Linked DNA regions of Homo sapiens: region 2 is linked to region 1. The links come from fine-mapping of genetic effects on gene expression. A gene starts in region 1. The other region holds a variant in brackets. All regions are shown on one strand. Distances are from middle to middle. Region 1 holds the start of NALF2 (NALCN channel auxiliary factor 2). Region 2 has its middle 67 kb from the start of NALF2.

Region 1 (2,800 bases):
CCAGACCGTGTAGGTGTCGCAAAAGGAGAGAGTGAAGTTCCGAAAGTGGCCTTTGAGCAAGTTTTTTTTGGCGGAGGGGAACTCGGCCGGGGCACGGGAAAGGGAGTCAGGGGGCCGCAGAGGGGGGGCCGGAGTAGTCGGTTCGAAAAGTCTCTGCAAAGATTGCAATTTGGTGCAAGCTGCGTCCAGCCCCGTGGGCTCTGGGACGCCGCCGCAGACCGGCCGAGAGCCGGCGGCGGGGGCGGCTTTGGTCAGGTTGCTGTATCTGGGGCCGCAGGTGCCTGGGGGCGCGCTGGGCTCGCCGGGCGGCGGCGGCGGCAGCGGCAGCACCGCGCGAGGAGGCACCGGCTGCCGCTCCCGGCCGGCCCCCCATGGGGGCCGCATGGCGCTGCTCAGCTCCCTGGCCCGGGGCCGGGCCCCCGCGCACAGCCACAGATGGTCAGCGAGCAGCACGGTGAAGAAGAGCAGGGACGCCAGGGACAGTCGCCATCGCTGCGCCCGCTCGGAGTCGGCGCAAGGTTTGTCGCTCGGCCTGGGAGCCCAGCAGCAGCAGCAGCAGCAGATAGTCAGCGCGGCGGCGTCTTTCCCGGGCCACATCCAAGCGCCCCTGAACATATTTCAGGGGGGTCCGGGCTGGAGGGAACAGGCAGGCGCGAGGCCAGACGGCCGTCTGGGGCGGGCGGGCTGCGCGCCGCTCTGCGCTCCTCGGCGCCGTCCAGGCTCTACCTCGGGGGCTGCATGGTGAGGCAGGCCGGCCGGCGCGATGCCCCGCTCAGGCCGGAGTCGCGGGGCGCTCTGGTGCCGTCTCCGCGCCGCTCCCGCGCTCCGTCGCTCTCAGCCCGGGCGCCGCCGCCCGGCCCGCTAGGCGCTGCCCGGCGTCCCGGCTGGGGGCGGTGCGGGGCACTGGGGCGGTGGCGGCTGCGGCGGCGGCGCCGCACTCCTCATAGTGTCGGGCCCCTCAGCTGCCCTCGGCTCCGTGCCACTTCACTCCGCGCCGGCGGCCGCCCGGCTCGCACTCCAAACCGGCCGTCTCGGTTCGGCGCAGCTCTGCGCCCCTCAGCGCCGCCGTGCGGGCCCCGCCGCCGCGCTCCGCTCCGCTCCCCTCGCCCCGCGCCGCTCCGCTCCCGCCCGTCCGCCCGCTGCCCGCTCCACGCCGCTCCCTGCCTCGCTCGCGCCCTCCTAGGCCGGCCGGCCGGTCCGTTGCCGGGCCCTTCGGGCTTCGTTCGCGCTCCGGGTGTTCGCCGGGGCCAGTCCCTGGCGGGCTCCGCTCTGGCTCCGCACCCGCTGCTCCTGGAGTTCCGGCTCGGGCGGGCCACCTGGCTCCCGGCAGCGCCACAGGCGCCGGACGCAGACACCGGGCTTTACTTAGTGCGCCTCTCGCTTCCGCCTCTCGTTCGCACCGCTGTGGCTGCAGCCCAGCGGCACGGCCCCGTGGCTCCCGCTGGCCATGCACCCTCAGTCTGTCGCCATCTTCCGCTGTGCGGAGAACACCTTGAGAGCCCCTGTGCAAGTGTGTTTGGCGGGGAGCAGGGCGGAGAAAGAGGCACGGAGAGGAGGAGGGAGCGGGACTGGTGCCCCGACTGCGCCTGCGCCTCAGGACTCCCCCCACCCCACCCCGCCCCAGCCCCCGCCGGCCGCAGCCGGTGCTGTTTGGGGATGTTTCCAGTCCACCCCCAACTCCATTCACTTCAGCGCCTCCGTTCATCCGCCCGCTGCCCGCGTGCACATGCCACACGCTGAGTCCCAGGCCTCGGCGCTCCCCCTCCCCCACTAACCCGGGCGCCCGCCTTCCTCTCCATGGCCGTCCCTCACTCCCCCGAGGGCTAGGGGACTTCTGAGGGTGATTCTTGGAGGCAAGGAGCAGCAGGCATCTCGTAGCTGCTTGCTGCCTCTCTGGGTCGCCTCCGCCGTCCCCGTGACTGGAAGACGCTCGAGCCGGCTGCGGATCGGACCAGTCCAGTGTCCCTAACTCCACCTTCGCCCTCACCGTCCTGCCCGAGGACAAGGCGGCCCTTGGTGCTGAAGGACAGCTCCCAGCTTAGCTGCTGAGGAAGACTGAGTTTGGAGAGCGTCCTGGAGGGGGCAAGGCGGTGGGCTAAGATAGTAGTGGTGGGGTGTCGGTGTTTGCCCTTAGGAATATTTCCAGCAGCCTCCACCCCCCACCCGCCCGCCCCCCACCCAAGCACCAGCCCCCGTCCTAGCTTTTTGGCTCCCCCTACAGGCTGCTGAGAATAGCTGACTGAGAGTTAGAGAAGCTGCGCCGCCCGGATGGAACCATGTGCTTGGGCCCTCACAGAGTCACATGGCACTAGGAATTCGGACGTACAAACATCCTGACGCGCCACTAACCTTGTTTGGACTCCACTGACCCTGTGGTCTGCTTGCCTTCCTCACTCCCAGTAACTCACATTGTAATTTTTTGTCAACCGTTGCCGGCAAGCATTTGTTAATGTTAAGAATAACAATAAAGAAAATAGCCTTAATTGAGCGCGTACTATGTGCTAGGTACTGCTCTATACATTTTGCATGCATTCGTCATCCAATCTTCACAACAGTGTTATGAGATAGGTACTACTGTTATCTTCATTTACATACAAAGAAGCTGAGGTTTAGTGTGGTTGTTGCCTAAAGTAACCAGAGCAGCTAAAAAAGAAACTCAGTCTGACTCTAGAATTCTCTTAACACTCCAGTAAGGCCCTGGAAAGATGAAAGAGCCAAGGCATTCCTTCCTTAAAGGAAATTATAGTCTATATAAGGAAACAAGACATGTATATTGGCTAGTGGGAGGATTCATGAACTA
Region 2 (2,800 bases), 68 kb after region 1:
AACTAGGGAGGTGAAAGATCTCTACAATGAGAATTACACAACACTACTCAAAGAAATCAGAGAAGACACAGACAAATGGAAAAATATCCCATGCTCATGGATTGGAAGAATATCATTAAATGGCTATACTGCCCAAAGCAATTTACAGATTCAATGTTATTCCTATCAAATTACCAATAACATTTTTTACAGAACTAGAAAAAATTATTTTAGAATTTATATGGAACCAAGAAATAGACCGAATAGCCAAGGCAATGCTAAGCAAAAAGAACAAAATAGGAGGAAATACATTACCTGACTTCAAACTATACTACAAGGCCACAGTGACCAAAATAGTATGGTACTGGTACTAAAACAGGCACATGGAACAATGGGATAGAATAGAGGGTCCAGAAATAAGGCTGCACATCTATGACCATCTGATCTTTGACAAAGCTGACAAAAACAAGCAAGGGAGAAAAGACTTCCTATTCAATAAATGGTGCTGGGATAACTGGCTAGTCATATGCAGAAGATTGAGGATGGACCCCTTCCTTACACCATACACAAACTCAACTCAAGATGGATTGAAGACTTAAATGTAAAATCCAAAACTATAAAAACCCTGGAAGACAACCTAGGCTGTGCCATCCTGGACCTAGGAATGGGCAAAGATTTCATGACCAAGACACCAAAAACAATTGCCACAAAAGCAAAAATTGACAAATGGGATCTAATTAAACTTATGAGCTTCTGCAGAGCAAAATAAACTATCAACAGAGTAAACAGACAACCTACAGAATGGAAGAAAATATTTGCAAACTATGGATCTGACAAAGGTCTAATATCCAGCATTTATATGGTGTTTAAACAAACTTACAAGAGAAAAACAAAAAACCCCATTTAAAAAGTGGGCAAAGGCCATGAACAGACACTTCTCAAAAGACAACATACACATAGCCAATAAGCATATGAAAAAAAAAGCCCAATATCACTGATCATTAGAGAAATGCAAATCAAAACCACAATGAGATACCATCTTACAACAGTCAGAATTGCTATTATTAAAGAATCAAAAATAACAGATGCTGATGAGGTTGCGGAGAAAAGGGAACCCTTATACACTGTTGGTGGGAGTGTAAATTAGTTTAAACATTGTGGAAAGCACTATGGAAATTCCTCAAAGAGCTAAAATCAAAACTACCATTTGACCCAGCAATCCCATTACTGGGTATGTACTCAGAGGAATATAAAGCAATCTACCATTAAGACACATGCATGCAAATGTTCATTGCAGCACTGTTCACAATAGCAAAGACATGGAATCAACCTAAATGTCCATCAATGACTGACTGGATAAAGAAAATGTGGTACATATACACCATGGAATATTATGCAGCCATAAAAAAGAATGAGATAATGTCTTTTGTGGTAACATGGATGAAGCTGGAAGCTATCATCCTTAGCAAACTAACATAGGAAAAGAAAAACAAATACTGCATTTTCTCACTTATAAGTGGGAGCTAAATGATAAGTACTTATGAACACAAAGAAGGAAACAACAGACAGTGAGATCTACTTGAGGGGGGTGGGTAGGCTGGGGGAGAGGAGCAGTAAAGGTAACTATTGGGTACTGAGCTTAATACCTGGGTGGTGTAATATATACAA[C/T]GAACCCCCATGACACATGTTTATGTGTATAACAAACCTTCATATGTACTCTCAAACCTAAAATAAAAAAGTTTAAGCCAAAAAATAATAAAATAAAAATTAAATTCCAAATGTAAAACAAACAAAAATATACAAAATACATAAGAACGCCCTACAGCTCAATTAAAAAAAACCGGTTTAAAAATGGGCAAAGGACTTGAATAGACATTTCTCCAAAGAAGATATACAGATGGACATCCGGTATATGGAAAGATGTTCAACATCACTAATCATCAGGGAAATGCACATCAAAATCACAATGAGATACAGTCTCACATCAGTTAGGATGGCTATTATCAAAAAGCAAAAGATCCTCCTTGTACCTCTGGTAGAAGGAGGAGCTGGTACCACTCCTTATGAAACTATTCCAATCAATAGAAAAAGAGGGAATCCTCCCTAACTCATTTTATGAGGCCAGCATCATCCTGATACCAAAGCCTGACAGAGACACAACAAAAAAAGAGAATTTTAGACCAATATCCCTGATGAACATTGATGCGAAAATCCTCAATAAAATACTGGCAAACTGAATCCAGCAGCACATCAAAAAGCTTATCCACCATGATCAAGTGGGCTTCATCCCTGGGATGCAAGGTTGGTTCAACATACAAAAATCAATAAACACAATCCAGCATATAAACAGAACCAAAGACAAAAACCACATGATTATCTCAATAGATGCAGAAAAGGCCTTTGACAAAATTCAACAACCTTCATGCTAAAAAATCTCAATAAATTAGGTATTGATGGGATGTATCTCAAAATAATAAGAGCTATTCATGACAAACCCACAGCCAATATCATACTGAATGGGCAAACCTGGAAACATTCCCTTTGAAAACTGGCACAAGACAGGGATGCCCTCTCTCACCACTCCTATTCAACATAGTGTTTTAAGTTCTGGCCAGGGCAATCAGGCAGGAGAAAGAAATAAAGCGTATTCAATTAGCAAAAGAGGAAGTCAAATTGTCCCTGTTTGCAGATGACATGATTGTATATTTAGAAAACCCCATCGTCTCAGCCCCAAATCTCCTTAAGCTGGTAAGCAACTTCAGCAAAGTCTCAGGATACAAAATCGATGTGCAAAAATCACAAGCATTCTTATACACCAATA

Evidence for each region. PIP is the estimated chance that this variant, and not a neighbour inherited with it, causes the effect.
Region 2: its variant is the best candidate, but not a certain one, in a credible set for the expression of NALF2 in tibial nerve (GTEx, PIP 0.63).

What each region holds. Positions count from the first base shown.
Region 1 is chrX:69,503,098-69,505,897 of GRCh38, reverse strand. NALF2 (NALCN channel auxiliary factor 2) reads right to left here and starts at 1,572. Exons shown (of 3, transcript NM_015686.3): 1 at 1-1,572. The coding sequence starts at 615. RefSeq lists a silencer at 446-619.
Region 2 is chrX:69,435,531-69,438,330 of GRCh38, reverse strand. No RefSeq gene overlaps it. Among named protein-coding and RNA genes, the nearest start is that of NALF2, 67 kb to the left of the region's middle. The variant C/T (reference allele first, on the strand shown) is at 1,648.